Homo sapiens: one gene and its partners. The main gene of each other region encodes a partner of the protein of the gene in region 2 in a complex. Each region holds a gene or a part of one and is shown on either strand. Other genes may lie near its edges. The genes, in order: ARPC5, ARPC1B, ARPC3 and ARPC2.

Evidence for each region.
Region 1: ARPC1B (region 2) and ARPC5 share a complex: the UniProt entries of both Homo sapiens proteins name them as parts of the arp2/3 complex.
Region 3: ARPC1B (region 2) and ARPC3 share a complex: the UniProt entries of both Homo sapiens proteins name them as parts of the arp2/3 complex.
Region 4: ARPC1B (region 2) and ARPC2 share a complex: the UniProt entries of both Homo sapiens proteins name them as parts of the arp2/3 complex.

The regions. Positions count from the first base shown.
Region 1 is NC_000001.11:183,625,764-183,632,790, forward strand, and holds part of ARPC5 (actin-related protein 2/3 complex subunit 5), read right to left. Parts: intron 4,875-7,027; coding exon 4,698-4,874; intron 1,832-4,697; coding exon 1,769-1,831; 3' UTR 1-1,768. UniProt on the Homo sapiens protein: Component of the Arp2/3 complex, a multiprotein complex that mediates actin polymerization upon stimulation by nucleation-promoting factor (NPF).
Region 2 is NC_000007.14:99,377,727-99,384,753, forward strand, and holds part of ARPC1B (actin-related protein 2/3 complex subunit 1B), read left to right. Parts: intron 1-7,027. UniProt on the Homo sapiens protein: Component of the Arp2/3 complex, a multiprotein complex that mediates actin polymerization upon stimulation by nucleation-promoting factor (NPF).
Region 3 is NC_000012.12:110,440,330-110,447,356, reverse strand, and holds part of ARPC3 (actin-related protein 2/3 complex subunit 3), read left to right. Parts: intron 1-1,805; coding exon 1,806-1,905; intron 1,906-6,968; coding exon 6,969-7,027. UniProt on the Homo sapiens protein: Component of the Arp2/3 complex, a multiprotein complex that mediates actin polymerization upon stimulation by nucleation-promoting factor (NPF).
Region 4 is NC_000002.12:218,220,189-218,227,215, forward strand, and holds part of ARPC2 (actin-related protein 2/3 complex subunit 2), read left to right. Parts: intron 1-5,731; coding exon 5,732-5,766; intron 5,767-7,027. UniProt on the Homo sapiens protein: Actin-binding component of the Arp2/3 complex, a multiprotein complex that mediates actin polymerization upon stimulation by nucleation-promoting factor (NPF).

The DNA of each region.
Region 1 (7,027 bases), on a different chromosome or scaffold from region 2:
AGGACCCTGAATTGCCTGGAAGTGTTTTAAAGTGGGAATCTAGTCAGGTGAAGATCGAAAGCAAACAGAAGTCGCTGTGAGTAGGTAAGTACAAGAAATAGATTTGAGGTGAAAGAAAGAGAATTTTGGAGGCTGGGAGTGAATGACTGCAGCTGCTAAGCTACTTTGCACTTTCTAGTCTAGGTCTTTGGGCAGTGATACTACATATAGGTATTCAGCTGCCATCCAGAAGGCTATGGAATCACTCCAAAGGCTTCAGTAGTGCTCTGACATCATTCATGACTCTCTTCTCTATCATCTTATATCTATATAGTCTTATAAAAACCCTACCAAACTGTTCTTGTTAAGAGTACAGTACTTGGTGGTAGAAGCAGAAAACCTTTCCTCTTAATTAACCATACATTCATAATTGTTAAAGTCAGAGAAAAATAAATTATTCAACACTGACATTTTATTTTCTGAAGTTTTATCATTTTTACAAAACAAAACAAAATGAAACAAAAAGCAGGTATCAAAAACAGCAAAGAGTTTATAGAATTTCTGCACCAGTTTGCACATAAGTCAGTGATTACAAAACTGGCATCCAATGTAAATACTAAGCACAAGCTCACTTCCCTCTTGGTCAGGTGGTTTGTTTTAGAGCTACTCGATATTTATAACTTTTTATAAGCACCGGTCATTTTTTGAGAACTGATTTGGTTTGTCCAACAAAGTAAACAATTTTTTGCTGTGTGGCAGTTTCTTTTTTTAGAAAACACTGAGCTAAAACACAGAATGTGTATTTGTTTGGATCTGAACCAAATCTTTTGAGATCCCAACTACCCTGAAGAACACTGAAGACATTTACGGGGCATATTAAATGGTATCTTAAATACTAGTTGTATACCTCATAATGTCTAAGGCAGCTATTATATTTCTAAAGAAAGTAGCATTTCATTCAGAGGCTGCCCAGAGTTTAAATTACACCATAGTTTTTCTTTCTTTCTGCAAATCATTCTTTCTGATTTGCAGTTTTTTCCAAACAGAGCCATATTAGTGGAACAAAAGTTTGATGTTCATGCCCAACAAGCTCTGATATTTTATGGATACATTTGTATAAAGCAAGACTTCTTGCTCTGAACCCTGGGTGACCACAAATAAATTGAGGGGCCATGATTATTGGATGCTGAGAGAAAGTAGCATACTTAAACCCACAGTACAGATAATCAGGAGGCAAGCAAAAACAAAGCTATAACTTAGCAGTGGTATTCACCCACCACTTATTCCAAAAACATATTTTGCTTATTAAATAAGGGAAATATGGTCCAGTTTTGCAATGTTAATAGCTGCCAGTCTCTCATATTTTTTATAAATATCATTTCCTGACTAGCAATGAGCTAGGAAACTGGCCTCAAATTCTGACCAAATCTCTCAGTATTAGTTAAAAATAATACAAAACAAAACAGAACAAAAAACCAGCCAACAGGGGTTAAAAGTTGCACAATTAAACTTGAATGTAAATTATACTATATACAGATTGGTATAAACATCACTGAAATGGTTTTGAAAGGATGAAACACTTCTATTTTAACACAATTTCTTCTATATTATCCCAATTTTCATTAAAGGACAACTGATATGTAATTTTTTTCTTTACAGATATGAAAAAGCAAGAAGGCAAAGCTGAGAGAAACAGATGCTACCCACAGGGCAGCGGTGGCATTTGGTTGTTTTGGTCTTTGTACCAGCAATTCCCACTCCCGAGGCAGATAATCCACTTCCTGCCAGACTACACAGTTTTTCTTGCAGTCAAGACACGAACAATGGACCCTACTCCTCCAGCAGCAAGTGCCTAAAAACAAACCAAGATGTAAATGTTGACAGAATAATAAAAGGTCAATTCTCATATTTGGTAAAACATTTTTCTTAAAGAAGGAATGGGCACTGCTATAGACCCTGAATTTATTAGTTAACAAATAATAAATTCTTGAGCACCAATTATGCACCAGGTACTGTTCTTGGCACTGAGGTTACAGTAATAAACAAAACCTTGAAAGTCCCTGCCCTCATGAAGTTACATTCTAGTGAGATACTAGTTTACATTTTAGTACATTAATTCTAAATAATGTTTTAAAAAATCTGCAGCATAGGCCGGGCGCGGTGGCTCACGCCTGTAATCCCAGCACTTTGGGAGGCCGAGGCCGGCGGATCACGAGGTCAGGAGATCAAGACCATCCTGGCTAACATGGTGAAACCCCGTCTCTACTAAAAATACAAAAAATTAGCCGGGCGTGGTGGCGGGTGCCTGTAGTCCCAGCTACTCGGGAGGCTGAGGCAGGACAATGGTGTGAACCCAGGAGGCGGAGCTTGCAGTGAGCCGAGATTGCGCCACTGCACTCCAGCCTGGGCGACAGAGCAAGACTCCGTCTCAAAAAAAAAAAAAAAAAAAAAAAAAAAAAATCTGCAGCATAGTGTTCCTGCTCAAAACAGGTGGACATTCTGCATTTCTCATTCTCACCACATAGTCAGAAGAAAATTCAAACTGGGATCAACCATCCCAACTTCCACTTCGATTAGTCAGCCTTTGTCAGATTTTTTTTCTCCCAAAGAAAGAAGGTATTGTTTAATAGCTAAGAACTTAGAAACTTTAACTCTGACTCTAATTTGAAAAATAGAGAGTAATGATCAAGTATTAGGAATCTGAGCTCTGGTTTCTTTCTGTTCAAAAAATATTTATGGAATACCTTTGTATACTGAGTACTGTGCTAGATGCTGGGGATACAAAAGTGAACAAATACAGCATTTTCTGGTCTAGCATGAGGAGACAGACATATAAACAGGTAATTTTAATCTAATGTATGAAATGAGAGTTGTGCTGCAGGTGCTATTAAAGCACCAGGGAGAGGCTTATACCCAGATTAACAGTATAGAGGAATGTTTCAGCTAAGGCTTCATGGAGGAAATGACACATTAAAAGAATGAGTAGGTGACAGGCTAACACCAGAAAATCATGAGCAAATGTATGGAGGTGTGAAACAATATGGTGCATTCAGGAAAAAGGCTGGCATTGCTATAGCCTGAGGGGAAGAATGACATGGAAGATGAAGCTAGACTTGGGAACTTTGACTTTATCCTGCAGGTGACTGACAAGGGCAATTTTGATTTTAAAGATATCATTTTGATGGCTGGGTGGAGAACAGATTTGAAGGAGGCAAAACTGTTAACTGGGAAACCAGTCAGGAAGCTATGGCAACAGACTGGGAGAGATGCTGTGAACAGCTGCATTAGATACGCTTGAACAGATAGATTTCAGAAATACTTCGAAGATTGGTAAAAACTGGTGACTGACATTTGGAAGAAATGAAGACTTCACACATGCCTCAGTTTCCTCAGTGACAAAAGAGGAATAATAGCAAGCATTTCCCTCCATTTTTATGAGGATTAAATGAGTTAATATTTATAAAGTCCTTTGAAGAATATGTGGAATATAATAAGTAATCAATGTTCACTGCAATCTTGAGGCTATGCTAGAACTACGCTGCTTGGGTTTTAAAGCTAGCTTTTCATCTGTAAATTGAGGATGATAAAGATATTTATATACTTCACAGGGTTGTTGTAAAGGTTAAATAAAACATTAATAGTATGGTACCTGGCAACAGAAAGTGTTCCATGAATAGGGTGCCATATAAATTACTACCCAAATTGGTGCATTTTAGAGTAAAAGGGGGAACTATTGTTTTACTATGTGCTTTTTTCTTATGTTTGTGTTTTCACTCAGATACACTTCAAACACTCAATATTTTTATGACTGGTTCTATTTACATGTTATCCAGTTTTTTACCCAAAGCTCAAAATCACTTATACTCTTTTGACAGATGATGTACCAGCATCTACTTACATTGCAAAATATACACATGAAAATAGAAAAACATGATTTAAGAATTCTTGATCCTCCAAACTCCTAATTCTTTAAAAAAGTTGTAAAATATCTAACACAAAATTTGCCATTTTAACCATCTTTAAGTGTAAAATCCATTGGCATTAATTATATTCACAATGTACTGTAGCCATCACCACTATCTGTTTCCAAAACTTTTTTACCACTCCAAGGAGGAACTCTGTACCTATTAAGCACTAACTCCCTATTCCTTGCTTTCCCTACTTCCTAGTAACCTCTAAGGACTTTCTGTCCCTTTGTGTTTGCCTATCCTAGATTATTTCATATAAGTAAAATTATAAAATATTAGTTCTTTTGTGTTTGGCTCATTTCACTTGGTATGTTTTCAAGGTTTATTAATGTTATAGCATGTGTCAGAATGTCATTCCTTTTAATGGTTGAATCATATTCCATTGTATGTATGTACCACAATTTAGCTGTTCATCTGTTATGATCCTTGTGTTGTTTTCACCTTTTGGTCACTGTGAAAGAATTCTTGATTTGTATTGCTTATTTTCTTTTACAAAGTTTTGATTTAATTCAGAGTTCAAGATTATGTTTAATTACTAATAATCATTGTTGAATAAACACAAGTGTTGGAATCAGAATCTCTTAAGACCAAGGCTAGTAAACATAAATATGAACTATCCTTTTCATGCATTTTATTTGTAATAACAAAAATGTACAACAAATCAAAATGGTTATTTAGGTGAGAGAGGTTGTCATTGTCATTCCCTATTGTAAAAGAACCAGTCATATAGATTTATAATTCATAACTTACCTTTTCATGCCATTGCAGTAACATAGCACTGCTATTGTCAGACGGGCTCTCAAATCCTTTATAAATATACTTCATTAGGAGATCCACACCATTCTTGTCCAGAGATTGAACTGCCTTTTCTATATCATTAGCTTTAAAAGAGATGAGCACCTTCAAGACAATGCTGCCTGCCCGGTCCTGGTGGGTCAATAAATAACAGAACATTTAGACATATCTGTATGAGGAGGGTTTAGAATTTCAGAAAGTCTACACTATGAATGTGACATTTGAGTAAGGACCTGAAGGACGTGAAAGAAGGCTTGGGATAACTGAGGAAAGTGTTTCAGACAGAGGAAAGAACAGTGCTATTAGTGTGTGTTCAGTGTGTTCCAGGAACAGAAAAAAACCCAATGTGGTTGGAGTGGATTGGTGGGAGAAAAGCACGTGAGTAAGTCAGAGGTTATGGGAGGACAGATCGTGTAAGGCCTACAGGCATTGTAAGGAGTTTGGCTTTTACTGAGAGAAATGAGAAGACATTGGAAGGTTTTAAGAGCAGTGCCATAATCTGACTCACATTTTAACAGGATTGCTTTGGCATCTATGTTACAGAAAATAAGCTGTGGGAGTAGGGGATAAGGTAGAAGCAGGGAGAGCAATTAGGAGGCAATTGCAATAATACAGGCTGGATGTGGTAAGCATAGTAGCAGTGGAGGTGGTAAGAAACTAGACAGACTATTAACATAATTGAAGGCAGAGCTGAGAGGATTTGCTAACAGATCAATGTGATAATTTAACAATTTATTAAAACAACATTTAAATTTATGTCTTGATCTTAAAAAAAAAAAATCCCAACAAAACGGCCGGGTGTGGTGGCCCACAGCTGTAATCCCAGCACTTTGGGAGGCCGAGATGGGCAGATCACCTGAGGTCAGGAGTTCGAGACCAGCCTGGCCAAAATGGTAAAACCCTGTCTCTACTAAAAATACAGAAATTATCCAGGCATGGTGGTGTGTGCCTGTGATCCCAGCTACTCGGGAGGCTGAAGCAGGAGGATTGCTTAAACCCGGGAGGCGGAGGGTGCAGTGAGTTGAGATTGCACCACTGCACTCCAACCTGGGTGATAGAGTGAGACTCCGTCTCAAAAAAAAAAAAAAAAAAAAAAAATTCCCAACAAAACAAGGAGGCAGATTTGCAGTTTCACCTTGAATTATCCTTCAGAAGTAATTTTTTCTTAAAAACTTTTTTATTTAAAAATTTTAATAAACCAAGCTGTCTTAAAAGAAAATTGACTGTAATTTATATGAATTGACTGTAGATATGAAATATAGTGATGTTCATTAATAATGATCTTTTTTCTTTGGCAAAAGCCTGCTTCAAAAGCAGTTATTTTCTTACCCATCCGGCCAAGCAAAGGAAACACTTAACTGACCTTTTCAACAATTCGTTTCTCCTTCCATTCAACACAAAGTGATACCTCCAGCATTCCTACTGGTCAGGATTTCACAGAATGTTTCTACCACCTACTGTTATCTTTGGTTTAAAGACTGCAATTACCAGATTTAGAAAAATATCTTTGCATCCACGGTAAAAATGAAATTTCAACGACAATCTTTACAACTTGTAAAAACCAAAGAAATTTTCCCCAATAAAAAATTATGTTACCTAGATAATTATTATGCATTTACCTAAGTTATTACTTACTACTATTCAATTGAGATTCTTGAAGCTCCTAGGATGTATGAATAGCTATGGACAACGGGGTTGATGCTATGGGCATCATTTTAAATAAATACGTAAATAGGTTAAGAATTAGTAAAAGACTGCAGAGAATGTAAGTTGCACAACTGTTCTGAAGGGCAATTTGGCAATACTGCATACCAAAAGCCTTAAAAAAAAGTGCATTCTTTGATCCAGTAATTCACTGCTAGCAATTTACTCAAAGAGAACAATTAAAAATTTACCAAAAAATATTGATTTCAGTGGTTTACAATAGGAAAAAAAAAGTCAGTCTAAATATATAACAAAAGATTAGTTATGTATACACTGCAGCTTATCCATATACAAGTGTTAAAAATGCTATAAACTTATTGCGAAGGAAAGCTCATGTACATTGCATATAGCTGAAAAAGCACGTTATAAAATTTCATTCTTAAAAAAACAAAAGGGAACTCTGTAACAATACAGCAAGGCCCCAAAGTAGTAACTGTTATCTCTGGGTGCTGGGACCACAAACCACTATCTTTTTAACCTTCTCATATGTCTGAGCTTTCTATAATAAGTATTTAGTATTTGTATGGTTTTAAAAAATCTTTAAAAAGCAATTACAATCTGTTTATTTTTGTAAAGGTTTA
Region 2 (7,027 bases):
CGAGTTCAAGTGATTCTCTTGCCTCGACCCCCCGAGCAGCTGGGATTACAAGTGCCCACCACCAAGCCCAGATAAATTTTGTATTTTTAGTAGAGAGGGTTTTACCATGTTGGGCAGGCTGGTCTCAAACTCCTGACCTCAGGTGATCCACCTGCCTCCGCCTCCCAAAGTCTGGGATTACAGGTGTGAGCCACCGCACCCGTCGGTTGATAGGTCTTTTCTAATATTAATAATTACGTAGCATCTCAACATGTTAATGTCATAATTTACTCTTTCCATATTGTCACCTGGGTTTTTCCACACTGTCACCATTATAAAGACAGCTATTATAAACATGTTTGCTTTATTTTTTAGATGAGGTTTCACTCTGTCACCCAGGCTGGAGTACAGTGACGAGATCTCGGCTCACTGCAACCTCCACCTTCCCAGCTCAAGGAATCCTCCAGCCTCAGCCCCTCAGATAGCCAGGACTACAGGCGTACAGCATCACATCCCGCTAATTTTTTTTTTTTTTTTGGTAGTTTTTATAGACACAGGGTTTTGCCATGTTGCCCAGGCTGGTCTCCGAACTCCTGGACTCAAGTGATCCACCTGGCTTGGCCTCCCAAAATGGTGGGATTACAGGCGTGAGCCATGGCACCCCACCTGTTTGCTTTTAAAAAAGAAAAATGGGGCCAGGCGTGGTGGCTCACACCTGTAATCCCAGCACTTTGGGAGGCCGAGGCGGGTGGATCACAAGGTCAGGAGTTCGAGACCAGCCTGTCCAACATGGTGAAACCCCATCTCTACTAAAAACAAAAACAAAAATTAGCTGGGCGTGGTGGTGGGCACCTGTAGTTCCACCTACTGGGGAGGCTGAGACAGGAGAATTGCTTGAACCTGGGAGGCGGAGGTTGCAGTGAGCCGAGAATGCACCACTACACTCCAGCCTGGGCGACAGAATGAGACTACATCTCAAAAATAAAAAAGAAAAAGAAAGAAAAATGTGTTGCTGTTTTCTTAGGACCAAATGGGTGTATGTGACCAAAGAATGTTAATTTTCTTTTTCTTTTTTTTTTTTTTTTTTTTGAGATGGAGTCTTGCTCTGTCCTCCAGGCTGGAGTGCAGTGGCGCAATCTCGGCTCACTGCAAGCTCCGCCTTCCGGGTTCACGCCATTCTCTTGCCTCAGCCTCCCGAGTAGCTGGGACTACAGGCGCCCGCCACCACGCCCGGCTTAATTTTTTGTATTTTTAGTAGAGACGGGGTTTCACCGTTTTAGCCAGGATGGTCTCGATCTCCTGACCTCGTGATCCACCCACCTCGGCCTCCCAAAGTGCTGGGAGTATAGGCGTGAGCCACCACACCTGGCCAGAATGCTAATTTTCAAGTTCCTGTTAGTGTTATTCTGTTCTATTAATATTTGGTCCCACCCACTTGTTGAATTGAGTGCCCTTCAGAAGAATTAAACCAATTAGCAACAAATGACAATTTCTCCACAGCTCTGCTAGCATTGAATTTTGTGTGTTTTTGTTTTGTTTGGATGACTAACCGGTGCTTTAATGGTACCTTACGATTGTTTTCATGTGTGTTTCTTGACTTCACTCTGCGTGGTTGGTAAGACTTCAAGAGCAGAGCTGGAGAGGGAAGGATAGGGGTAGGAAGGGCTCTGACCCAGCATAGGAAGTTGAGTAACCGCTTAGCACGGTGCAAATTAGCCTGCTGGCTGCTCTATCCAAGAACTGCCTGAGCTGGGTGGGGACTTCCCAGAGCGCCTGTAATGCTGAGATCTTTCCTCCAGGCAACTCCTCCTTGGTTTAGCCTCTGATACAGCCAAACCTCTGGATTCAGGGAAACCTAAGGAAGCCAGGCAAGAAGGGTCCCGCAGCCTGTGCCTAGTCTAGCCCCAGCCTCATCTGGATTAAGATGGGAGGGAAATATTGGCTGAGGGCACCCAGCCAGTATGAAGACAGCTAGAATGTAAACCCAGCACAGTAAGGGAGAGAGTATCAAGGCCCAGGACTTTAGAGTGCCTCACCACCACCACCCCGCCGCTGGGCAGCCTGAGGCTTTCTTTGCCTGGCACCACCATGCCTGGCTAATTTTTTTTTTTTTTTTCCAAGTGGAGACGGGGTTTTGCCATGTTGGCCAGGATGGTCTCAAACTCCTGACCTCAAGTGATCCACCCACCTCGGCCTCCGAAAGTGCTGGGATTACAGGCGTGAGCCACTGTGCCCGGCTATCCCCTCCTCTCTCTGGTTTCTTAACATCAAACAGGCCCACAGTGCTGGCTCACAGGGCCACAGTGATAGTGGGTTGGTGTCCTGGATCCCTCCCCCAGGAGCCATCACTGAGACCTTATGCTGTCAACACTGGTGGGTGAAGCAGCCCTCGTATTTTTCTCCTGAGACATCCAGAGCAGGGTAATTGGCAGGCGGGGGTGAGCACACGCTGGCTCACGCAGGCTTGGTAGGTGAGAGGTTTTCCTGAGGATGATGAAGTTGGAGTGTCCCCGGCTAGAATCCCTGAGGCAGGAGACTGGAGCCCTGTGGCAGCATTGGCTGAGAGAAGCCACTCCCTTTTTGCTCTCCCACTTCCTCACTGGTAAGATGTGGGGGTTGGGGAGTTATCGCAGAGGCGCTTTGGGTTTCAGCTGCTTTGCAGAAGTTATGGAAAAAGGGAAATGAGTCTTCCTGTCTCTCGCCCCCTTAACACTTCTTTGCCCCATTTAAGGGGTTTGTTCAACAGACTAGGAAGTATTTCTGCTAATTCATGCTGAAGTGTGATTGGCTGATAGGTGTGGTCTCAACCTCCCTCCTCTGCCAGTCACTAGTGTACCACTGTGGCCATCTTTTCCAGCCCCTCCTCTGCCCCTTGAGTATGTCTAGGTCCTAGAAACAGTGGTCAGGGCTCTTCAAGTCCTCTCGGTTGCCCTTGCCCACTGGCACACGTGGGGGTTGCTGTCTTCAGCAGAGCCAGCCACTCCGTCTTGACAGCCAGGGCAGAGATGTGGCTGGGCACACAGCAAGAATGTGACCACTGATGCTGGGATGTCAGAGTCTGTGCATCAACCCAGGGTTCTGAGTCTGGGCTCTCCCACCCTCATCCCCGGAGGTTCCTTCAGTCTGGGCCTCCTGGGGCTGAAAGGGAGGGAAAAATTGGCCTCAGCTGGAGTCCTGGGGCCAACCAGAGCCTGGGTGGAGTGTGAAAGTGGGCTTCTGGCCTTCACCCTGCCCCTGCCCTGCTGGTGACCTTGGACCATGGGGGTTGTCGGGGTGTAGATGAGCACCGTGAATCAGTCACAGGCCTTGAGCTTCTCTCTGCACAGTGCTGGCATCAGATGTGGGTGGTGATGTCCCAGCCTGGGAACACAGGAAACGCTCAGGGAAACCCCCATCAGACCTGCTGACATGGCTGAGGGCGCTGAGATGGTGCTTCCGGGGCCCTCACCTTACACAAAGAGGCCTTATAAGGAGAGAGAGGCTGCAGAGGCAGCCCCAGTGGGTGCCGGGTGCTTGTTCTGGGTAAGGCTGCCCACACGTGCAAAGTGTGCTTGTGGACACAGTGCGCTTGCGTGTGTGCAAGGCTGAACATACATGTGTGCAGGCCTGCAGTGTGCCTGTGTGTGAGGCTCAACACGTGCATGTGGGGAGTATGGTCATGTGTGCAAGGCTAAACATGTGCTTAAAGTGTGGGGAGGTGCAGTGTGCATGTGTGTGTGCAAGGCTTAACATGCAAAGTGTGCTTGTGTGTGTGAGGCTGAACACGCATGTGTTTGTGTGCGTGGCCTGACCCTGCGCTGCGTGTGTCTACTTGCTCAGCAAATGCTGACTGGGGACCCACCGGGGTCCTGTTCTAAGCATGGAGGAAACATGAGGTCCCTGCCCCGTGCATGTACACATGTGCATGTGTGTGTGTCCTGTGCTGCTCCAGGAATCTTCCAGGACATCCTGATACAAGTGAAAGCAAGCGGTTTGGATCTGGAGTGAGCAGGAGGTGGACAGGGCCTTCCAGGCAGTGAGCGCAGGGGGCTTTGTGTTGTGACCTCGGGCAGGCTGGTCACTGAGCCCTGTGGGGCCAAACTGCAGCCCCAGGCAAAGGTCGTTCTGCCTTTCCCTTGTGCCTGGGCCCAGATGCAGTGCAGGATGGGCCGGCCCCTGGGCAGGGCAGTGACGGGGCAGCCACCGGCCTCCTGGGGCATTCAGGGTTCCCAGTCCTGGTTGGCTCCCAGCCCAGGCCCTGAGACCCAACACAAAACTGCCAGTCTGGTGAGGGAGGCAGCCACATTATCTAATGGCTGTCACTGGTGACTCTGGGCAGGTGGCCTCAGCCCCCACATCTGTCATCTGGAGCTGACCTGGAGCCTGGCATCCCTCCCCAAGTGCAGCCAGGCCTCCCTGAAAGTCCAGGGCTGGTGGGAGTGTTGAAGTCAAGAATGTATACAGAGCACCTGGCCAGGCGCGGTGGCTCATGCCTGTAATTCCAGCACTTTAGGAGGCCGAGGCGGGCGGATCACTTGAGGTCAGGAGTTCAAGACCAGCCTGGCCAACATGGTGAAACCCTGTCTCTACTAAAAATATAAAAATTAGGCATGGTGGTGCGCACCTGTAATCCCAGCTACTCAGGAGGCGGAGGTTGGAGTGAGCCAAGACTGCGACATTGCACTCCAGGCTGGGCAACAGAGTGAGACTTCATCTCGAAAAAAAAAAAAAAAAAGGATACTTTTTTTTCTAGAGCTGGCAAGGAGGGAGTATCCAGAAAGTGCTGGATGGTACTAGTTAATACATTTTATTTTAGAGACAGGGTCTGGCTCTGTCACACAGTGGTACAATCATAGCTCACTGCAGCCTCAAACTCCTAGGCTAAGCAATCCTCCTGCCTCAGCTTCCTGAATACCTAAGAATACAGATGTGCACCACCACACCTGCAAATTTTTTTATTTAAATTTTTTGTAGAGATAGGGTCTCACTGTATCGCCCATGCTTGTCTTGAACTTCTGGCCTGAAGCAATCCTCCTGCCTAGGCCTCCCAAAGTACTGGGGTTACAGGCATGAGCCACTGCGCCTGGCCCTATTTAATAAAATTATTTATTTATTTATTATTTTTAAGTTATTTTTTCACACACATTCATTCCTAACCTTTTTTTTTTTTTTTTTTTTGAGACAGAGTCTTGCTCTGTTGCCCAGGCTGGAGTGCAGTGGTGTGATTTTGGCTCACTGCGACCTCTGCCTCTCAGGTTCAACAGATTCTCCTGCTTCAGCCTCCCAAGTAGCTGGGACTACAGGTGTGCGCCACCACGCCCAGCTAATTTTTGTATTTTTAGTAGAGACAGTCTTTCACCATGTTGGCCAGGCTGGTCTTGAACTCCTGACCTCAGGTGATCCGCCCGCCTCGGCCTCCCAAAGTGCTGGGATTACAGGCATGAGCCACCGTGCCTGGCCTCATTCCTAACCTATGTAATGATAATATTTTTGAGGGCTGGGTAGGGTGGCGTGAGCCTGTAGTCCCAGCTACTTGGGAAGCAGAGGCAGGAGGATCACTTGAGCCTGGGAAGTCGAGGCTGCAGTGAGCTGTGATCACACCACTGCACTCCAGCCTGGGCAACAGAGCGAGACCCTTTCTCAAATATACACACACACACACGTTTCTGAGAACGTACTCTGTTGGTCACTAATGGCAATGAAAAATTTGTTCAGCGGATATTTCTTGAGCACCTACTATGTGCTAAGCATTTAAGCAGTGGAAATAGAAACGAGAACAAGATAGAACAAAAATGTGTCTCTGCCAAGCTGGTTCTATTCCAGCAGGGGAGGAAGGCAGCGGGCCAGATCAGTGAGTGCATGTCTGATGGTGACTGCTGAGAAAATTTAATCGGAAATAGGGAATTACGAAGTGCCGGACCGTGGAAGGTGCTGCAGTTTCCAGGGAAGGCCTCCCCAAAAGTTGACATTTGAGTACAGACTTGAGTGGCAGCACCAGAGCGAGAGCCGTGTGTGCCGGTATCTGGGGGAAGAGTGTCACAGGCCTAGGGAACAGCCAGCACGGAAGCCCGAGGCAGGTGCATGCCTGTGTGCCCCAGGATTGGCCTCTGGTTGGCTGGGGAGGCCTGCTCCTCAAAGGGCTGGTATATCACATCCATCACAGGCTAAGAGTAACCGCCTCGTGGTTCCTCCTCATAGAGGCCAGGTGCGGTGTGTCATCTGCTTCCAGCTCTCAGCATCTCTGCTGGGAGGCAGGATTCCTGTTCCCATTTTACAGATGAGAAAACTGAGGTTAAAAGAAGGCAGGTGATGTGTCCCGGGGCATGTGGCTGGGCAAGCAGTGCCACTGGGCTCCTCCACTTCCAGGTCCCTGTGATGCTGGGAAACTGAGTCACGGAGGCGGGGAGAGATGTGTTTGAGGAATTGGGCTGAGACCGTGATCTCACCCCCGTCAGGCCTGGTGGGCTCCTTTGACACTCAGCGGCAGGTGGAGGAGGCTAGGGACAGGCTGGCAGGGGCTGAGCTGGGCTGACGGGAGGATGAGTCGCTGCCCTCTGCCAGGGTTCCCCTTCAGTGCTGGGGCTAGTCTAGAGGGCTGCAGTCAAACATCTCCCTCGTTCTGGCCGAGTGTAGTGGCTCACACCTGTAATCCCAAATACTTGGCAGGTGAGGAGGGAAGATCTCTTGAGCCTAGGAGCTTGAGACCAGCCTGGACAGCATTGTGAGACCCCCCTCTCTACAAACAAATCAAAAATTAGTTGGGCACAGTGGCACATGCTTGTAATCCCAGGAGTTCATGGCTGCAGTGAGCCATGATCACACCACTGCACTCCATCCTGGGCCACAGAGAGAGACCCTGTCTCAAGAAACAAAAATCTCCCTCCTTCAGTTCCCCAAGGCTGGGTCACCCTGGGGCCTCCCCAAGAGCCATCACCCAGGCCTCGCCTAGCCCTGTGCCTCCTCCCAGCCCTGGGTGCAGCCAGTGGATGTCTGGATGGAGAATGGGATGTATCTGTTAAATATCTGCCTTTGCCTCAGCCATGAGCCCCTGCAGACCGGCCACCTCCCT
Region 3 (7,027 bases), on a different chromosome or scaffold from region 2:
ATGGGACCCATGTTGACTTATAAAAAGCCAGACATCTTGTAAAAAGCAGAACTAAGAATCAGCATACAAAATGCTCTCATAAATGTGATTTTTTTTATCCCTTCCTTTAACACACACCTACCCACTGAAGGGAATATATATCTTCTCATTTTACAAATTTGGAAACAAGCTAAGAGAAGAAGAATGATGTCTTGGTCAAAAGCATAACGCCATGAAGTGGCAGAGCTGAAAAGATAGTGCTTGGGTCTTGGTTTAGCTGGGGGCTGGGTACCCTGATTTATATGATGTTTGTCTTTCTGTAGTGGAAATACTTTGGCCAGATACCAATGTGATGTCACCGAACATAGAATTGGAAGAGATGCACAGCAGCACCCCATTATTTAGTATTTCGTAATAATAACCTTAAGAACATAGACAATAGTAAAATGTAATTTTTAAAAATTAGGTTATTGCCGGGTGCAGTGGCTCACGCCTGTAATCCCAGCACTTTGGGAGGCCGGGGCGGGTGGATCATGGGGTCAGGAGTTCGAGACCAGCCTGACCAACATGGTGAAACCCTGTCTCTACTAAAAATACAAAAATTAGCTGGGCGTGGTGGCACGCACCTGTAATCCCAGCTACTTGGGAGGCTGGGGCAGGAGAATCGCTTGAACCCAGGAGGCGGAGGTTGCAGTGAGCAGAGATCGCGCCACCGCACTCCATCCTGGGCGACAGGGCAAGACTCCGTCTCAAAAAAAAAAAAAAATTAGGAAGTAGGCCAAGTGCAGTGCAGTGGCTCACATCTGTAATCCCAGCACTTTGGGAGGGCAAGGCGGGCAGATCACCTGAGGTCGGGAGTTCGAGACCAGCCTGGCGAAAATGGAGAAACATCGTCTCTACCAAAAATACAAAATTAGCTGGGCGTGGTGGCTTATCCCTATAATCCCAGCTACTCAGGAGGCTGAGGCAGGAGAATCACTTGAACCCGGGAGGCGGAGGTTGCAGTGGGCCAAGGTCATGTCATTGCACTCCAGCCTGGGCAACAAGAGCCAAACTCTGTCTCAAAAAAAAAAAAAAAAATTAGGAAGTAGCCAGGTGTGGTGGCTCACACCTGTAGTCCCAGCCCTTTGGGAGGCTGAGGCAGGAGGAACACTTGAGCTTAGGAGTTTGAGATCATCTTAGGCAACATGGTGAGACTCCTTCTCAAAAAAAAAAAAAGAAGTGATGAATACTTAAGCATCATTGTTTTTAACATTATTTACTTTTTTTTTTTTTTTGAGACAGTCTTGCTCTGTTGCCCAGGCTGGAGTGCAGTGGCACGATCTCGGCTCACTGCAGCCTTCGCCTCCTGGGTTCAAGTGATTCTCCAGCTTAGCCTCCCACATGGCTGGGACTACAGGCGCACGCCGCCACGCCTGGCTAATTTTTTATATTTTAGTAGAGATGGGGTTTCACTGTGTTGCCCAGGCTGGTTGCAAACTCCTGAGCTCAGGCAATCTGCCTGCCTCAGCCTCCCAAAGTGCTGGGATTACAGGCATGAGCCACCACGTCCAGCCAACATCATTTACTTAATTGTAAGTTTATATAATTTGATTTTTGAGAAGAGCTGTGTTTAACAACCAGCTTGAAAAATGCCTCAAAATTTAACAATTGGTTTTCTTGAGCCAGAAAGAACCAGCCCTCGCACCTCAATGCTGCTATCCCTTCTCCCTCCCCTAATTAATCTTGGGTGGTTTACTCTTTTTTTCCTTTAAGGGAAGGTTGTTTGCCACAGTGACATTTGCTCTTTTTCTGCTTCTGTGTTCTTCCTGGGCTTGCCATTACAGGCTTACCACTCTTCTCTCATGGATCCTGATACCAAACTCATCGGAAACATGGCACTGTTGCCTATCAGAAGTCAATTCAAAGGACCTGCCCCCAGAGAGAGTAAGTCTAAACCCATTATTTTCAAATTTTGGTACGAAATGCCTAACAATCTTCTGAAATGATCAAATCAGAAAAATTCTTAGCTCAGTCTTCTCTCTCAAATTGCCCTTGTACTTTGCTTGGTAGATACTGTGGTCTAGACCTTTCAAGATAGTGGTTATATGTTGCATTTAATAGGAAATTGTATTATTTCTTCTGACTTCTCCAGGAAACTCTTTTGAGAAAATGGAGGAAATGTGCTTAATTCTGGACACTGTTTATCAGTTCTTTCAAACAAATCTAATGCTGTTACGTCTAGAATGCCACATGCCCATCCTTTCTGTCATCAACCTGGAAAAGAACAACAACAAATATTTTAACCTCTTCCTCGTCTAAATCTACTTCCTTTATTCATTCTTCAAGATCTTCATTTTTAGCAATACCTCAATCTTAAATCTGAAGTGTACTATGTAACATTACTTACGTCTATTCCCGCTTTTCTGAATTTTATTTCAGAAAGCCGCAATATTTTTCAGACACTGTCTGAGACTCTTCTGATGCTTTCTGAGATGTTCTCCCAACAGTATAATTTGTATTATGTTAGACATGGTTTCCCTGTACCCTGCAAGGGTCTGAACTGAATTCCATTCATGGTTTCCAAGACCATTATTATAATTACCAATTTGGTACTTATCCAGTCCCCATTTCTCTGCCAGACTGTTTGACTTGACCTTTTTTAAACTTAATTTTGTTTTCAACACCATTTGAAAGCTCAGTAAACTTAATGCATATGGTGAGTCACCACAGTCTCTACTTGATTCTGAGGAAAAGGAACAAGGAAGAAGACAGCCTGGGAAAGAAGAAAAATAACATAAAAGAAAATCACAAGGCTGGGTGCGGTGGCTCACACTTGTAATCCCAGCACTTTGGAAGGCCAAGGCAAGTGGATCACTTAAGGTCAGGAGTTCGAGACCAGCCTGGCAAACATGGCGAAACCCCAACTCTACTAAAAATACAAAAATTAGCTAGGCATGGTGGTGGGCACCTGTGATCCCAGCTACTCAGGAGGCTGAGACAGGAGAATCGCTTGAACACAGAGGGTGGAGGTTGCAGTGAGCCAAGATTGCACCACTGCACTCCAGCCTGGGTGACAGAGTGAGACTTCATCTCAAAAAAAAAAAAAAATTTTTTTTCACTGCAAAGGCCAGGCGTGATGGCTCACACCTATAATCCCAGCACTTTGAGAGGTCGAGGTGGGTGGATCACCTGAGTTCAGGAGTTCAAGACCAGCGTAACCAACATGGAGAAACCCCATCTCAACTAAAAATACAAACAATCAGCCGGGCATGGTGGCGCATGCCTGTAATCCCAACTACTTGGGAGACTGAGGCAGGAGAATTGCTTGAACCTGGGAGGTGGAGGTTGCAGTGTGCCGAGATCATGTCATTGCACTCCAGCCTAGGCAACGAGCAAAACTCTGTTTCAAAAGAAAAAAAAAAAAAACCTGAATTGGAATGGAGGCCTGTGCTGTGAGCTAAATAACAGCATTAATCACACTAATTCATTTATATTCAACAAATATCTGTAGAATGCCTTTTATGTGCCAAGTATTCTTCTAATTTCAGAATCCTTTGGCCTTTGCCCCCTCCTGTCATTGCATTTAGAAGAACTAGCTGGTTTTTGGAAACAATATTGAGTCCTCCAAGACAGTTTTCTTTCACAGATAAGAAAACAGATTGCAGCCAGGCATAGTGGCTCACGCCTGTAATCCCAGCACTTTGGGAGGCTGAGGCGGGCAGATTGCCTCAGGTCAGGAGTTTGAGACCAGCCTGGCCAACATGGTGAAACTCTGTCTCTACCAAAAATACCAAAATTAGCTAGCTGTGGTGGCAGGCACCTGTAGTCCCAGCTACATGGGAGGCTGAGACAGGAGAATCACTTGAACTCAGGAGGCGGAGGTTGCACTGGGCCTAGATTGTGCCATGGCACTCCAGCCTGGGCGACAAAGTGAGACTTGATCTCGAAAAAATAAATAAATAAAAAATAGGGCGTGGCGCGGTGGCTCACGCCTGTAATCCCAGTACTTTAGCACTTTGGGAGGCCAAGACGGGTGGATCACGAGGTCAGGAGATCGAGACCATCCTGGCTAACACGGTGAAACCCCATCTCTACTAAAAATACAAAAAATTAGCCAAGCGTGGTGGCGGGCTCCTGTAGTCCCAGGTACTCGGGAGGCTGAGGCAGGAGAATGGCGTGAACCCAGGAGGCAGAGCTTGCAGTGAGCCAAGATTGCACCACTGCACTCCAGCCTGGGCAACAGAGCGAGACTCCATCTCAAAAAAAAAAAAAGTAAATTGCAAGGAACACAAGTCTAGAGTTAGAGTTCTGTTGAAATTCTTCCACAGGGCAATGAGCTGGGATGAAGACAACTGAATTGCAGAGTATGAAAGCTTCAAGATTACTTTGCATTTCTGCTGTGCGAGAACGTTAACAGTCATAGACAAGAAGTATAAGTAACTGTCTCAGCACTGCTGAAACCAACTGCCAGATATCAAGACCCTGGGATTTTGACCTTTTTAAAATAAGAAGAAGAAAAACAAAAAATTGCCAAACAAATTGTGTCATGAGATCTGTCTTTGTCAAGACAGTATTTCTGGCTTTTGTCCGTCTAGAGCTACCTACAACAGCTTGTACAAGTATATTTTAAGTCATAGTTTTCATAAAAAGAAAGATGTGTATCTGAACCTCAACATGTTCTAAATAATTGAGTTTTTTTCTGAAACTATAATATGTAAATTCAAATAAAATTATATTGAATACTTTTTATTTTATTTAATTATATATATTTTTTATTATTACTTTTTTGAGATGGAGTCTCGCTCTGTCACCCAGGCTTGAGTTTGGTGGAATGATCTCAGCTCACTGCAACCTCTGCCTCCTGGGTTCAAGCAATTCTCCTGCCTCAGCCCCCTGAGTAGCTGGGATTACAGGCACGTACCACCATGCCCGGCTAGTTTTTGTATTTTTAGTAGAGACAGGGTTTCTCCATGTTGGCCAGGCTGGTCTCGAACTCCTGACCTCAGGCAATCCATCCGCCTCAGCCTCCCAAAGTGCTGGGACTACAGGCGTGAGCCACTGCGCCCGACTGAATACTTTTTATTTTTAGGAAGCAGTTAAAGTTAGTCTATGTCTCAGTGTTTTTTTATAAATGCATTGAGAGACGTCTTGAATAATGTTCACCAAATGCTAATGGTAGTTATTTTTGGGGAAATGGGAATTAAGGTGACAATTAAAAATTTTTTTTTTGCCTGGTGCTGTGGCTTATGCCTGTAATCCTAGCTACTCAGGAGGCAGGAGGATCACTTGAGGCCAGGAGTTTGAGACCAGCCTAGGCAACATAGTGAGACTGCATCTCTAAAAAAAACTTTTTTTTTTTTTTTGGAGACAGAGTTTTGATCTCGTTGCCCAGGCTGGAGTGCAATGGTGCAATCTTGGCTCACTGCATCCTCCACCCGCGAGTTCAAGCGATTCTCCTGCCTTAGCCTCCCGAATAGCTGGGATTACAGGTGCCTGCCACCATGCTTGGCTAATTTTTTGTATTTTTAGTAGAGGCGCAGTTTCACCATGTTGGCCAGGCTGCTCTCAAACTCCTGACCTCAGGTGATCCACCCGTCTCGGCCTCCCAAAGTGTTGGGATTACAGGCGTGAGTCACTGTGCCCAGCCATCTTTAAAAACTTTTCTTTAAAAATTTTATTTAATTTTTAAAGAAAAAAATTAGCCAGGCCTCATGGTGCATGCCTGTAGTCCCGGCTACCTGGGAAGCTGAAGCAGGAGGATCACTTGCGCTCAGGAATTCAAGTCTGTGGTGAGTTATAATTGTACCACTGCACTCCAGCCCGGGTAACAGAGCAAGACCTCTCTCTAAAAAATAAAACTGTTTTGATTGAATTTCATTTTCTAATGAGCATGTATAAGTTTTACGAAAACAATAAAGCTGTAAAAATAAACCATGTACTACTTTTCTATAAATATTTTCTGAAAATCCGGGGGTGGTGGCTCACTCCTGTAATCCCAGCACTTTGGGAGGCTGAGGCAGGCAGATCACGAGGTCAGGAGTTCGAGACCAGCCTGACCAACAAGGTGAAACCCCATTTCTACTAAAAATACAAAAATTAGCCAGGCCTGGTGGTACATGCGTATAATCCCAGCTACTTGGGAGGCTGAGGCAGGAGAATCGCTTGAACCCGGGAGGCAGAGTGAGCCGAGATCATGCCATTTCACTCCAGTCTGGGCGACGGAGCAAGACTCCGTCTCAAAAAAAAAAAATTTGGCCGGGCACGGTGGCTTATGCCTGTGATCCCAGCACGTTGGGAGGCCGAGATGGGCGGATCACGAGGTCAGGAGATCAAGACCATCCTGGCTAACACGGTGAAACCCCGTCTTTACTAAAAATACAAAAAATATAGCTGAGCATGGTGGCAGGTGCCTATAGCCCCAGCTACTTGGGAGGCTGAGGCAGGAGAATGCCGTGAACCCGGGAGGCGGAGCTTGCAGTGAGCCAAGATCGCGCCACTGCACTCCAGCCTGGGCGACAGAGTGAAACTCTGTCTCAAAAAAAAAAACAAAGGCTGGGCACGGTGGCTCATGCCTGTAATCCCAGCACTTTGGGAGGCCGAGATGGGCGGATCACGCGGTCAGGAGATCAAGACCATCCTGGCTAACATGGTGAAACCCCATCTCTACTAAAAATACAAAAAATTAGCGGGGTGTGGTGGCAGGTGCCTGTAGCCCCAGCTACTCAGGAGGCTGAGGCAGGAGAATGGCGTGAACCCGGGAGGCAGAGCTTGCAGTGAGCCAAGATCACGCCACTGCACTCCAGCCTGGGTGACAGAGCGAGACTCTGTCTCAAAAAAAAAACAAATAAATATTTTCTAAAAACTTTGTATTTCAATAGGATCATTTTATTTTATTCAACTCCACAACTGTTGACAGTTGTATGTGTTTTCCCTTTATGGCTTTGATAGTTGTTATGTTTTGTATTTGGCTAATGTTCTCTGTGCTCCTTCCCTTGTGTCCTGCTTAGCAAAAGATACAGATATTGTGGATGAAGCCATCTATTACTTCAAGGCCAATGTCTTCTTC
Region 4 (7,027 bases), on a different chromosome or scaffold from region 2:
TTTGAAAGGCTTTGCTGGTGTGGGAACCTGCTAGGAGAGGTCAGCTCCACCCTACTTTTTGCACTTCTCAGAATAAACCGATGGGGGAAATTACAGTTCGGAGCAGCCTTTTCCAGAGTGCATCTTCCATCTCTGTGATGTCCAATAAGATAGCCATACAAAGTGGCTGGCTAAATTTAAGTAAAAATTAAGTTGAAATAAAATTGAGTTCCTCGGTCACACTAGCCACATTTCTGGTGCTCATTTGCCACATGTGGCTGGTAGCTGTTGTATTTAGCACAGACATGGAACATTTCCATTATTGCAAAGTTCTATTAGCACTGTTCCAGCTTCTGAAAATGAAAGCATGAGATGGTCTTAAAAATAGTTCTGTGGCATATACTTCAGAATATAGTTGCATTAATTTTCCATTTGAAGTTGATTTTTTTTTTTTTTAATGATTCCTCTCAGATCATCCTGCTGGATCTTCTCACCAGTGGCCTCCTACTAAAAGTATCAGCTTTCTTTTGGGTAAAGCAGTGTTGTCATCTAAACTGTTTAAGAATACATTTGATCATAACCTTTTAATTTGGAGGCAGTTTGACAAAGCCTAAGGTTCATTCCAAACAGATTGCTTTTTAATTTTTTCCTACACACTTCTGGGAAGTGGCTTATTGAAACAACTCATAGATTGTCACAAAATAATAATTATTGGTAAATTGTCTTCCCAGCAGCCCACAAACTAAGAGAATGTGACTGACTTAAAAGCTATGCCCAACACTGCAAATAACCTCATGCACAGGTCTGATCAACAGCATTGCCTTTTCATTTGGAAATTCTTACCCAGACCCTCAAAGCAAAAGTAATCAGACAAATTAATTTAATTCTTTCGTTAGTGTACACACCAAGAACCGTTTCATAACTGAGAAGCTAGGCCTGTCAACTTAGCTGGAGTCTGGAGTCCAAAATTGAGGAAATTCTGTCAGATGCAAATTGCTGTTGGATTTAAGTGTGTGCTGGCTCCGTGCCACAGCCAGTGTATATTGCGGGGAGCTGTGGTTCCATGGGGGGGAGTGAAACTCAGTAAGCAAGCAGTGCCAGTTGGGGTGGGCGAGGATGATGGGAAGAGAAATTTGAAAAAGGAATAAATTAAATCTTGCTGATACTCTGTTCTCATTCCCAAATATATTGCATATGTCCTCAGAGAGACAGGCTGTTTGGAGTGATTTGGAATTAGGACATTGTTTAAGCATTTAGAAGAAATGGAATGTTGTGTCCAACTCAGTAAGAAGACCTGGTTGGTCTTTTTACAGGTCACTGTAGTTAATTACACACTGCCACCTGTCCTGTGGCCTACTTGGGACCACTTTGGTCCTGAAGCCCCAGAGCTGTGCTGGACCAAACTGATAACTCCTTAAGAGCTGGGTCTATCACTTTAATCATCTTTGTTTCCCCAGCATCCTCATTGTGTATATAGTCAACTCAGTAAATTGGTTTATTGAAGAAATTAATGAAGCCAGATAGAATGATTCCTTGTTTCTTTAGGAGCTGACATTTTTGTGACATTGAGTAAATCAGCTTTTAGGTCTCTGTTCTCCATATTTTGATATATGGCTTAGTGGAGAATAGGACCACCTCTTACCTAATATGATCTATTTTTTTAGGCTTTGCTCAAAAAGAATGATGGGAGCTTTATAGAAGATTTAAAGGAGAATGCTCAGAAACCTTTATAGTGAGCAGAATTCAGTAATTCCTCTAATTCAGGACATAAGAAGGGATAAGTAGGAGAGAGACATAAATGCCCAAATGGGGAATTGGGGCCAGGCACCCTGGCTCACGCCTGTAATCCCAGCACTTTGGGAGGCCAAGGAGGGCGGATCACTTGAGGTCAGGAGTTTGAGACCAGCCTGGCCAACATGACAAAACATATGTCTACTAAAAATACAAAAATTAGCCAGGTGTGGTGGCGCACACCTGTAATCCCAGCTACTCAGGAAGCTGAGGCTGGAGAATCACTTGAACCCAGGAGGCGGAGGTTGCAGTGAGCAGAGGTGGCACCACTGCACTCCAGCCTGGGTGACAGAGCGAGACCCCATCTCAAGAAAAAAGAAAAAAATGGGGAATTGGATCCTAGGGTGCATTCAGGAGTAAAAACCCCAAAGTTGTTAATGAGAAAAGAAGATGAGATAATACAGTTGCCAGAAGCCCTTTCTGGATTGATTATTGACATTCTAGAAGCTTCCTTAGAGAAAAGATAGAAGAAAATTTTTTCTAAAGGGTTTTAAGAATAGCTCTTAAAACCTGTCTGAATGAATTGATTATGTTTTAGTGTCTTGGGTTGTCCAGGCAGTAACTCTGAGGACTTACCCAGCCGGCTTGTTCTAGGATTCCAGACATTACAGCAGTCTGACACTTATAGGAGTTCTGTTTTTCCTTGTACTGCTAACCAATTCCTGATTCAGGGAATTACCGCAATCCTAAAACCTCTCCCAACCACAGCTTCAGAGTCCGATCTCTGACTCCACCTAGGAGAAGAACTAATTTATTGATTACCTTCTATGAGCTAGGCACTGTGCTATATGCCTTAACATGGTTTCATTTCATTTCTGTGACAGATAGTGGATCTCATTTACAACTGAGAAAACCAGGGCTCTTGAGGATTGGGGGTGGGGGTAGATATTGAATAAGTAACTACTACATATTAAGTAAGCACCGTGCAGGCATCCTTCACTGTGATTCTTGACCTTGTTTATCGTATGGCACACAGAACATGATTGTATTTGTATGGCACATTTGGGTAAATGGTCTAGCCTCTCAGAGATCCTGCCACCTGCTGCCTGCCCTAAGGGATATGGGGATCATTACCTCAGCATATCTATAACTTAAAAGACACCGTTTGAGAAACTTTGCTGTACAGTAGTCCCCCCTTATCTGTGGTTTTGCTTTCTGCAGTTTCAGTTACCTGCAGTGAGCAGTGAACCATGGTCTGAAAATATTAAATGGAAAATCCCAGAAATAAACAATCCATTAATTTTAAATTGTGCACCATTCTGAGTAGCATAATGAAATCTTGCGCTGTCCCGCCCAGGACATGAATCATCTTTTTGTCTAGCATATCTACAGTGTGTACGCTACCCTCTGTTAGTCGCTTAATAGCTGTCTAGGTTATCAGATTGACTGTCACAGCATTGTAGTGCTTGTGTTCAAGTTACCCTTATTTTACTTAATAATGGCTCCAAAGTACAGGAGTAATGATGCTGGCAATTTGGATATGCCAAAGAGAACCCATGAAGTGATTCCTTTAAGTAAAAAAAGTGACCTTGGTGTTTCTTTGCTACAGTTCAGTGCTATCCACACTTTTATTTATCCACTGGGTGTCTTGGAACATATCCCCCACAGATAAGGGGAGACTGCTGTACTGCTGGACATATATCATCTCAGTCTTCACACCAACCTGGGAGGTAGATGTTTTGTCCCCATTTTGTAGAAGAGGAACCTGAGGCCCGGTGACATTTGAGGAGCATTGCCTGTGGTCACATAGCCAATAAATTCTGAATTCTAAATAACTTGCTTTTTCTCACCCCCAGCATCTGAAATTTTAGCAGCTGGTAGAACAGTAAATAATGTAACTATTAATTCTGGGGGCCTATTTAGTGGAACACTTTTCCTGGGCCAGTCTTCCTCCCGCTCCTTTGTAATTTTAAACCACAGAAGTAAAATAACAAACGCCAGGTCTTGGAATTGAGAAGCAATCTTGTGATGGTATACTTCACGCTCAGCAAACTCATCGTTAAGGCACTGAGTTCTCGGACCTCTAACTCCCAGAAGACTTCCCATGAAGTCTCCTTTGGCCTAATACTCTCCTCAGCAGCCATTCTCTCTCTTCTAGCCATAAATAGTAAACTAAAATATTAATGAATGTGATTTGACAAATATTGCTAAGTCAGACAGCAGACCACTTAAGATCGATCGTAGCAACTTTTCCCACAAGGATCTGTGCTCAGGATACTTTATGCCTAGAGAAATTTGAAATTAGAGACTCAAAGTGTGTATGACTTGGAGCCCAAAGGTTATTTATTTATAGTTGGTTTTTCTCAGGTCTTTTGACAAAGTAGGAGAGTGAGGAACTCAGCCCTTCTTTGGCTGAATTAAAACCTAAAGGTTAAAAAAAAACTTACTAAGTGATGTAATAATGGGCTTTTATAAACTCCCTGACTCTTCAGCACAGTCAGCCTTCCCCAGGAAAGTATGCTTCCATGCTTCCTCCCATTGGTCATCCTCTTAATATTTCATTCAGTTGGTCCATGATTAACATTTCCATATTTTTGTTCTTTGCTCTTGTTTTCTAGAGGTGAGGAATGGTATTGGACTCGTTGCCTTTGTTTCCTGGCTACAGTTTCAAAATGAAGGCTCAGAAGCAATTTAAATTTTCATCTAGTTTTTTCCTTCTATTCTGAACTCTCTGCTTCTCCGTAAACCCACTTGATACTTCAATTCGTAGAGATACCCAGTGCGCTTTTCCTAAGTCACATATAGGGCTTTGAAGAAGCAAGGTGAAGCTTTGTATGATTCGTATAGGTTGATTTTTCAGCAGGGCTAGCATGCTTCATAGAAGCCAGTTTTTTTGAAAGGTATTGTCTGGCTTCTATATCAGCTTTTTAACACTCATAAACCATGTTATATATTCCATTATTTCCCAGCATCCCTGGAGAGCAACTTAGTCTTCGTTTCTTTCGCAGGTAATGGAGCAGAGATCGTGGAAAGATACGTACTTGATTAAGAGGTCTTGAGCAAGTTAGACAAAAATAAATGTGAAAACATGCGCATCTTGTTTGCTAGCCCCTAAAACAAAGTGGAATCATTGAGTTTACAGGTAGCTAGCTGGTAAGGCAATAGTCTTCATTTGCTTCCTACTTTGGACTTCAGGTCTGTTCTTGTGTTATATGTAGTAGTTCCATGAGGTAAATAGGTTCATTTTTATTCCCCCATTTTATTGATGATAGGGGAGAATGCAAAGGTGTAAGGGTATTTGTCCCAAAACATGAGCGTGATGAGAAAGCTAAAGTTGTAAAGCAGATGTCCTGACTATTCTTAGTGATTTCATAGTGTTATTTTGTGTTACACTGTCTATTTTAAGTTCCGAGCTGGAATTTACAAAGCAAGACAAAACTAGGGTAGAACTAAAGAGGGTTTCTTGAAGGTGAGTGGTAAGTACTTTGGTGATGTAAAGGAAGAAAGAAAGATGAGTAGGAAGGCTTACAGACGGGTTTTGAAGTGGAATAGAACTTGCCGTTTTGTTTATGGCCCGAAATCATCCTTTCTCTTTAAGCATATTAAAACCATTCTACATTATACTTAGCCATTTTCCTGCTGAACGTTTTACTCCTAATACCACTGTCCTGTGGGGAAGGCATTGACCAAAAGATGGCATTTTGTGGTATATAGCATGTTGTTAGGAAATTCAGAATTGAAAGTGAGCACCAACCAAAGCAGTAGATTCAACAGCAGGTGAAAAACAAAAGCTATAGCTGGCCTTCCTTTTTTATCTGACCTTCCTTTTTTATCCTCTACTTAAAGCAAGTCCAAAGGTTCAGGTCCATGAGAAAATGAATTGTGTACTCTGATTGGCAGTAACCTAAAATTTATACAGAATGGTCTGATCTTAAGTGAAGCTCAGGTGCCTTTCCAGTTCCCTTTGAAGGTAAGCAGCAATACAGTCATCTTAACTGAGGACCTTTTTTGTTGTTTACAGAAACAAACCGGAAGCAGTAGAAGTAACATTTGCAGGTAAGCATCTTTATCTCAGCCCTCTGAAGAGAAGGTACAATATGAAAAATAGGAAATAGGCTGGGTGCAGTGGCACATGCCTGTAATCCCAGCACTTTGGGAGTCCGAGGCAGGTGGATCACCTGATGTCAAGAGTTAAAGAACAGCCTGGCAAACATGGTGAAACCCCCTCTACTAAAAATACAAAAATTAGCCGGGCATGGTGGTGGGCACCTGTAATCCCAGCTACTCGGAAGGCTGAGGCAGGAGAATCACTTGAACTGGGAGGCAGGAGTTGCTGTGAGCTGAGATCACACCACTGCACTCCAGCCTGGGCGATACAGTGAGACTGTCTCAAAAAAAAAAAGAGAGAGACAAGAAAAGAAAATTGTACCTAAAATAAGCTTTGACATGGATTGGGTGCGGTAGCTCATGCATGTAATCCCAGCACTTTGGGAGGCCACGGCAGGCGGATCACGACGTCAGGAGATCGAGACTATCCTGGCTAACATGATGAAACCCTGTCTGTACTAAAAATACAAAAAATTAGCTGGGCATGGTGGCGGGCACCTGTAGTCCCAGCTACTCCGGAGGCCGAGGCAGGAGAATGGCATGAACCCAGGAGGCGGAGCTTGCAGTGAGCAGACATCGCGCCACTGCACTCCAGCCTGGGCGACAGTGAGACTCCATCTCAAAAAAAAAAAAAAAAAAAAAAAGCTTTGACATTTTGGATACTGTCCCTCATCAGGTCTTTTTGAGCTCTTTATAATAGATGACCATTTCATGTATTTAATCCACTGATGACTGACAATATAAAGTTACCTGCTGATAAATTAGAAGTTTGGATTTAATTTTGTGGTAAAACTGAGGTTTTTTTGTTGTGTTTTTTTTTTAATTTGGAAATATTACATTATCTTCAAGTAGCTGTCAGTCTTAGTTTGCCTAGCACTAGAGTAGTAGGGAAACATGAACAGCTAGAGATGTGTTCATCAAGTCAGAGAGAGATGTTGCTGCTTTCTGTTCCCTATAAAGAATTAGGTGTTGGTACTATTTACTTGTTAGGTGAATGAACTCAGAGGAATACAACCACCCTTTCTACAACAAGAGTCCTCGACAAGATGATCTTGGAAGACTTTTGCAGCTCTGAAGTGCTGTTACCTGGAGGCCAGGCACCATCCCTTTACCCTCCTACTAACTGGCATTGCCAGATATCCCTTCGTGATTCCCATGACAGCTCCATAAAGTGATGGCACTCAGCACCTAATTCTAGTTTCAGGAACCT